Homo sapiens: one gene and its partner. The protein of the gene in region 1 interacts with the protein of each later gene in a pairwise test. Each region holds a gene or a part of one and is shown on either strand. Other genes may lie near its edges. The genes, in order: SLF2 and CBS.

The links.
Region 2: the proteins of SLF2 (region 1) and CBS interact in a two-hybrid assay, tested with the Homo sapiens proteins (one large-scale study listed by BioGRID).

What each region holds. Positions count from the first base shown.
Region 1 is NC_000010.11:100,922,854-100,926,699, forward strand, and holds part of SLF2 (SMC5-SMC6 complex localization factor protein 2), read left to right. Parts: intron 1-1,121; coding exon 1,122-2,119; intron 2,120-3,095; coding exon 3,096-3,166; intron 3,167-3,846. UniProt on the Homo sapiens protein: Plays a role in the DNA damage response (DDR) pathway by regulating postreplication repair of UV-damaged DNA and genomic stability maintenance.
Region 2 is NC_000021.9:43,058,556-43,062,335, reverse strand, and holds part of CBS (cystathionine beta-synthase), read left to right. Parts: coding exon 1-25; intron 26-1,789; coding exon 1,790-1,895; intron 1,896-3,032; coding exon 3,033-3,110; intron 3,111-3,367; coding exon 3,368-3,502; intron 3,503-3,780. UniProt on the Homo sapiens protein: Hydro-lyase catalyzing the first step of the transsulfuration pathway, where the hydroxyl group of L-serine is displaced by L-homocysteine in a beta-replacement reaction to form L-cystathionine, the precursor of L-cysteine.

The DNA of each region.
Region 1 (3,846 bases):
CAACCACCACCTCCCAGGTTCAAGCGATTCTCCTGTCTTGGCCTCCCAAGTAGCTGGGAGTACAGGCACGCACCACCATGCCTGGCTAATTTTTGTATTTTCAGTAGAGACAGGGTTTCACCATGTTGGCCAGGCTGGTCTCAAACTCCTGACCTCAAGTGATCTGCCCACTCCGGCCTCCCAAAATGCTGGGATTACAGGTGTGACCCACCGCACTCAGCCCACAATATGAATTTTTAAAAACTGGTTCATTCAAATGTATGTGGTTATTAAAGTACTTCTGGATGGGGCTATAATAAATATAGCTTATATTAGTTTCCTAGGGCTGCCATAACAAAGTGCCAAAACCAGGGTGGCTTAAAACAACAGGAATTATTGTTTCACAGTTCTGGAAGCTAGAAGTTTGAAATCAGGATATCAATAGGGCCGTAATGTCTCTGGCAACTCTAGGGGAGAATACTTCCTTACCTCGTCTAGCTTCTGGTGTTTGCCTGCAATCTTTGGCATTTCTTGACTTACAGCTGCATCACTCCAGTCACATAGCATCTTTTCCTTGTGTATTTTCACCTTGTATTCCCTCTGTGCATGTCTGTCTTTGTCTCCAAAGACAAAGACACCTTTTGTAAGTACACCAGTCATACTGCATTGGGACACAGCGTGATTTTTTTTTTTTTAATGAGAAATTAACATTTATCTGCCTTCAAGTGTTTATCCTATACGTGTTTTAAGGTACTATACATTTAAATGTAGAAGTGTTACATTTCTGCAACCAGGTAGTCCTAGGTCTAAAAGAATTTCCAGAAGTACCTATGGCATCCTTAACTTGGTACAAATATGCAGTTGTTTGTTTTAGGGAGTGGCATCTTTAATTCTGTTAAGGTGGTAAACTTTTCATAGCTTTGGAATGAAAATGAGCATTTGTCATTAGCTTTAAATTTCTTGGACACCAGTATTTATCCAGTTGATAAGTAACTCTTTTTCTGCATTCCATATATGGTGACTAATCTCAGCCTTAATACTTAGAATTTTAAACCTTTCATTAGGGTGTTCTAGACACTGAATAAACTTTACTAAAGTTGGAAAGTATATTTTTCACTAATCTAACAAAAATTAAATTTTAGCAGGCTCTAAGCAGAATAAATTCCCTGAAAAAAGAAAAAGGAACTCTGTGGACTCAGATCTGAAAAGCACAAGAGAATCTATGATACCAAAAGCAAGAGAGTCCTTCCTTGAGAAGCGTCCTGATGGACCACATCAGAAAGAAAAATTTATAAAACATATTGCACTGAAGACACCTGGTGATGTGTTGCGCTTAGAAGATATATCCAAGGAACCGAGTGATGAAACTGATGGCTCTTCTGCAGGCTTGGCACCTTCAAATTCTGGCAATTCTGGCCACCATTCTACCAGGAATAGTGACCAAATCCAAGTGGCAGGTACCAAGGAGACTAAGATGCAGAAACCCCACTTACCTTTATCTCAGGAAAAGTCTGCAATTAAAAAAGCTAGCAACCTTCAGAAAAATAAAACCGCTAGCTCCACGACAAAGGAGAAGGAGACAAAACTACCTTTACTTTCCCGTGTTCCAAGTGCTGGTTCCTCTCTAGTACCATTAAATGCTAAAAATTGTGCTCTTCCAGTTTCTAAAAAAGATAAAGAGCGTTCCTCATCTAAAGAATGTTCTGGGCATTCTACAGAATCCACCAAACACAAGGAACACAAAGCAAAGACTAATAAGGCCGATTCTAATGTATCTTCAGGGAAAATTTCTGGGGGACCTTTGCGCTCAGAATATGGCACTCCTACAAAGTCTCCCCCTGCTGCTTTGGAAGTTGTGCCATGTATCCCAAGCCCTGCAGCACCTTCAGATAAAGCCCCTTCAGAAGGAGAGAGTTCAGGAAATTCCAATGCAGGTAGCAGTGCACTGAAAAGAAAACTAAGGGGTGATTTTGATAGTGATGAAGAAAGTTTAGGTTACAACCTAGACAGTGATGAGGAAGAGGAAACATTAAAGTCACTGGAAGAAATAATGGCTTTGAACTTCAATCAGACTCCTGCAGCTACAGGAAAGCCTCCTGCTCTTTCCAAGGGGCTTAGATCTCAGTCATCAGACTATACAGTAAGTAGTTCTGTGACGTTTATCTTTACTTGAAGAGGGAAAGATGATTAATTAGTGAAAGGGGTGGATTATCGGAACTTACTTTAAAATTTAGTATTTATTATAACTCATATTTGTACTGAAAATGGAATAATTCTTGTTTGGTAAATGAGTTTCCATATCTTTAGTTTTATTACTGTAAGTCAGTGGTCTCCAAACTCTTTTGATCACACACACTTAACAATTTTTGAGCATGTACCCCAACATATATGTATACCTTTAGATTATATATATGTACCACTGTAATACTGTGTACTTTCTAAAGCATATGCAAAAACAGAATTTAAAAGGAAGAAGAAGAGAAAAATAAGTATTTTCCTGTAGAAGTGACGTAGAAGTTACTATAGACTAAGTTCTACTGGAGTCTCTATAGAAGTTCCATATAAATAGAAGTTCTATTATTTTCTTCCTGCACCCCAATGGATCACCTTGCACACCCCCTGCTTTGGAGACCACATCTGTAAATGAAGGTAGAGTGTAGAAATGTTGTTGATTGTGGTGTGCAATTTTATTTATAAAGTGCTTCATTCTATCTTGGGAATAAGCTGAATTAAATTCTAAGATGTCTGTAAAATTTGGTGGGGAAGGTGTTAATATTCCATGGTAACACCTAAAAATTAGTAGTTTGATTCTACTAAAATAGAATTTAAAAGTAAAGACAGGGTAGCCACAGAGTCCTTGAGTGTTTGCAGTCACATCTCAAAGTTAGCAGGGTTTTATAAGTACTGCCTTTCCTAATAGGTAGTAAAATCAAATTGTCTGCAGTGCAAAATACTAGATTTAAAGCATGATGGTGAAAATTATCCTTTAAGAAAGGTGTTATCCTGGCCCAGATTATTGAAATAGAAAATAGTCTTTCGTACCCTTAATTACTTAAAACATCCCAGTTCTTCTACTAAGACATGTGGTAAAGTATTTCTAAATGTTCTTGTTTTAGGGACATGTTCATCCTGGAACTTACACAAATACCTTAGAACGTCTAGTGAAGGAAATGGAAGACACACAAAGGTTTGTTAGCATAAAGATTAATTTGCTAAATTTAACATTTTGCTTGTTTGTGTGGCTTACTTTTAATTTACCTTTTTTAAAAAATCATGAGAAATTAGCGTGCATTTTGGACTCTGTTGTCAACTGTGTTAGAATAAGATATGTTGGCCGGACGCAGTGGCTCATGCCTGTAATCACAACACTTTGGGAGACCCAGGCAAGATTACTTGAGCCCAGGAGTTCAAGGCTGCGGTGAGTCGTGATGGCGCCACTTCACTGCAGCCTGGGTGGCAGAGTGAGACCCAGTCTCAAATGAAAAAAAGAGGCCAGGTGTGATGGCTCATGCCTGTAATCCAGTACTTTAGGAGGCCAAAGCAGGCAAATCTCTTGAGCCCAGGAGTTTGAGACTAGCCTGGGCAACATGGTGAAACCCCATCTCTACAAAAAATACAAAAATTAGCCAGTCATGGTGCCACATACCTATGGTCCCAGCTACTCAACAGGCTGAGGTTGGGAGGATCACCTGAGCCCAAGGAGGTCAAGGCTGTAGTGAGCTGTGATTGAGCCACTGCACTCCAATCTGGGTGACAGAATAAGACCCCGTCTCAAAAAAAAAAAAAGTGGGGGGCCAGGCGCAGTGGCTCACGCCTGTAATCCCAGCACTTTGGGAGGCCGAGGCAGGTGGATCATGAGGTCAGGAG
Region 2 (3,780 bases), on another chromosome or scaffold:
ATCGCGCAAGAGGGGCTGCTGTGCGGTGAGTGGGTGGCGGGCACGGGGGTATGGGGAAGGCAGAGATGGCTAGGGGGCACTGGGGATGGCTGGGGGCGCACCCTCAGTCAGCCACCGACCTGCATGTGTAAGACAGCAGTTCTGAGGAGTGTCACTGCGGCGGCCACGAGCCTCAGGTGTTGTCTGCCTGCCCAGTGTGGTCACCTGCTCAGGTGAGGGCAGGAGGCCATGGGGCGGGGCTTCGAGCTGCCTTCCAGAATGTGTTTCTAGAACAAGGCTGAAGCTCTCATGGCACTTATTGTTTCTAATCAAGTCCACCAGGGCCCCTGGGGCGGTGGCTCTGCATTGACGGGGCCCATGGCCGGGACTGGGTGCTGCGAGCACCCTGGAGCAGCTGGGGAGGGGACTGGAGCCTGAGGCTGTCCAGCTCGACCCCGCTCACCTTCCTCCTACCCCGTGCCCCTCTGCCCACCTGCTTGGGGGTGGACAGACCAGGTGGCCGCTGGCAATGCCACTGACTAGCCACACAGGCAGCAGAGGCCCTGTAGGGACCACAGTTGATCTAGACCTCTGGGGACTCGGAGAGCACACACCAGCTTCTAAAACGCAGGCAGGGACATGTGAGGTTTCTACATGTGCATTCCGTGTGTCATGTCACTTTGGGGGTGGTGACAGGGAAAGTGGAAGGAAACCAGCCCTCAGCATGGCCAAGTCCCCCGTTAGCTGAGCCCCAAACTAGAGATTGGAAGAAAGTCTTGATTGAAAAACCATTTCCCAGCCAGGCGCGTTGGCTCATGCCTATAATCCCAGCACTTTGGGAGGTCGAGGCGGGTGGATCACCTGAGGTCAGGAGTTCAAGACCAGCCTGGCCAACAGGGAGAAACCCCGTCTCTACTAAAAATACCAAAAAAAAAAAAAAAAGTAGCCGATGTAATGGTGCATGCCTGTAATCCCAGCTACTCGGGAGGCTGAGGCAAGAGAATTGCTTGAACCTGGGAGGTGGAGGTTGCAGTGAGCCGAGATCACGCCATTGCACTCCAGCCTGGGTGATAAGAGCAAAAACTCCATCTCAAAAAAAAAAAAAAGAAAAGAAAAGCATTTTCCAGATGAATCTGTCACGAAAGGTGACTTGGTGCCCATAATCGTTGGGCTCTCCCTGTCTCAGTCTCCCTGCTCCCCATGTTGGTGGAGAAACAAGCCCCTGCCTTTGGGGCTGGAAAGCAGGTCCATGGGCCCCGTTACAGAGGAGGGTGCCTCTCTTCCTGTGGGGGCTCCTACTGCAGACTTAGACCTTCCCGACTGCTGTGTGCACCCTCAAACTAAGCCCAGAGAAGACGCCTCTGACTCTGACTTCAGGGCTCCTAGGGACAGCTGGTGTCACTGTGAGCCTTGGTCTCTTGTTTATAAAGCAGAGCCCAGTGTGCAGTCAGGCAGCCTGCAGGCGTGGTGCTGGGGGCTCCGTCCTCGTAGCATCGCTGGCTCTAGGCTCAGGGCCAGGAGGTTTGCCAGGGGCCGCAGCCCCACTGCAGGCATTTCCCTGGCACCAGTGCCCACCCCAGCTCATTATGAAGCCCCGAGTGGACACAGAAACTCCATGGTGCACAAGGAAGAAGCCGATGCTCACGGAGAAGTGGGGTCCTCCCAGCCCCTCTCCCCGAGGCAACCCCTCTTGACGGATCCTTCGGAGTGTGTCTGACATGCTCCCATGCGTGCACGTGCACAATTCATGCATACGTGTGCACCCACGCACGCTCACCCTGGCGCGTCTGACTCGTGGCCCTCTCTGCAGGTGGCAGTGCTGGCAGCACGGTGGCGGTGGCCGTGAAGGCCGCGCAGGAGCTGCAGGAGGGCCAGCGCTGCGTGGTCATTCTGCCCGACTCAGTGCGGAACTACATGTAAGACACGGCTTCCCTCCCAGGTCCCTGCTCCTCTCCATCCTGCCACCCTTCCCTGGATGCCTCTCACGCCTCACCTGAGAACCGGCAGCCAGAACTGGGAGGGGAGGAGGCCAGCGGGGCCCTGTGAGCACCGCCTCCACTCTCCTGCCCACGTGCCCTCACGCTGTGGGGCTTCCCAGCCTCTTAATGCTGTGAAAATCAATGCACACTCGCAGTGACAGCCCTGACAGGAGGGGCATGAAAGACGGTGGCTCCCTCTCTGTCCCTCCTGTCCCTTCCTCTCTGGTGTCTGTCCCCCTCACTGCTCTGGGGTCCGTGAGCTCCAACGGGTAGCCCTGGCCACATGGACTGACGTCCTCTTGGGCCGGGCCCTGTGCCACCTCCTATCCACCCTGACTCCCTCTGCTGCTTCCCCCAAACTCCAGATTGGGACCGAGTGCTGCCCAGGTGGCCCCCTAGGACTTGCTGTGACTGTTTTGCCCAGAGGCCCCTCGGACAGTAACGCCACAGACCTCGCTGGTCACCGGGCAGCCAGGCTGAGACTGGCGCTGCTCTGCACCTGGTCTCCGGAGGCGGTACCAGGGCGGGTGTCTACAGACCCCCATGCCCTGTCCCCTGCACCTGCAGGGTTTCCTCCATGGCCTGCAAGCTGCAGCGGCTACACAGCTCCCGAGAGCTCAGCTGCCCTTGGAGGGCCAGGCCTGGCTGGTGGGTGCCCCCAGTTGGGTTCCCCAGTGTGGGGTGATTCACATCTGGTGCCCAGGGTCAAGATGCCCTGTGCAGGGCTCCTGCCCACCCCCGTCAGTGCAAGAACACCATCTCCCCACATACTTGGCCAGCCTGCCATGTGTACCTGTGCGTGTGAGTGTGTGAGGGGCAGAGAGCGAGCATGAGAGGACGTGTTTATCTGAGTGCCTGAGCGATGGCTGTGTGCATGCTCACACACGCTTGTTGGCCATGGGGGCGGGAAGTCCAGCCCCCAGGCTTCCCCCTGGGGCTTCCAGCCAGCACTTGGGGGTCTCTGCTGCACCAGTGAGGTCCAGGAGAGGGGCTGGGCAGGCAGTGCGTGCCACTCAGCAGGGGCGGGGGCCCGGTGGGGCCCTGCGGGGACTCGGTGACTCCCCCATCCCGCAGGACCAAGTTCCTGAGCGACAGGTGGATGCTGCAGAAGGGCTTTCTGAAGGAGGAGGACCTCACGGAGAAGAAGCCCTGGTAAGACCGCTCGGCCGGAGACCCGCTGCCTGTGCTGGCCCTGCCCAGTGTGACAGGCAGGAGAGCACTCCCCCGTGGCCTGTGCTGGCCCTGCCCAGTGTGACAGGCAGGAGAGCGGTCCCCGTGGCCTGTGCTGGCCCTGCCCAGTGTGACAGGCAGGAGAGCGGTCCCTGTGGCCTCCTGCTGAGGTGCTGCCGGCGGGGGTGCGAGAGCGTTTGTCCTTATCCTGATCCCCCCGACCTGCCCTCTTCCCTCAGGTGGTGGCACCTCCGTGTTCAGGAGCTGGGCCTGTCAGCCCCGCTGACCGTGCTCCCGACCATCACCTGTGGGCACACCATCGAGATCCTCCGGGAGAAGGGCTTCGACCAGGCGCCCGTGGTGGATGAGGCGGGGTCAGTCTCAGCCCCTGCTCAGAGCTCAGTCCTGGGTTCTGTCTGCCCAGCTCCACCCCGTCAGTGTCACTGGACAGGGCAGCCATGCAGACCCTGCAGCTGGGCTGATAGGCCCGCCTGGGCCGCCTCATACAGACGTTCAGGGCATTGGAGGCCCCTTGCCGGTCCCTGAGCAGCCTGGGGCAGGGCTGCCGTGCTCACTCCAGGCCCTCAGACCTCAGCCCACCCACCCTTTGTGTGCAGGCTGTCCTGGGCCCACCTGGAGGTCAGGGGAGAGA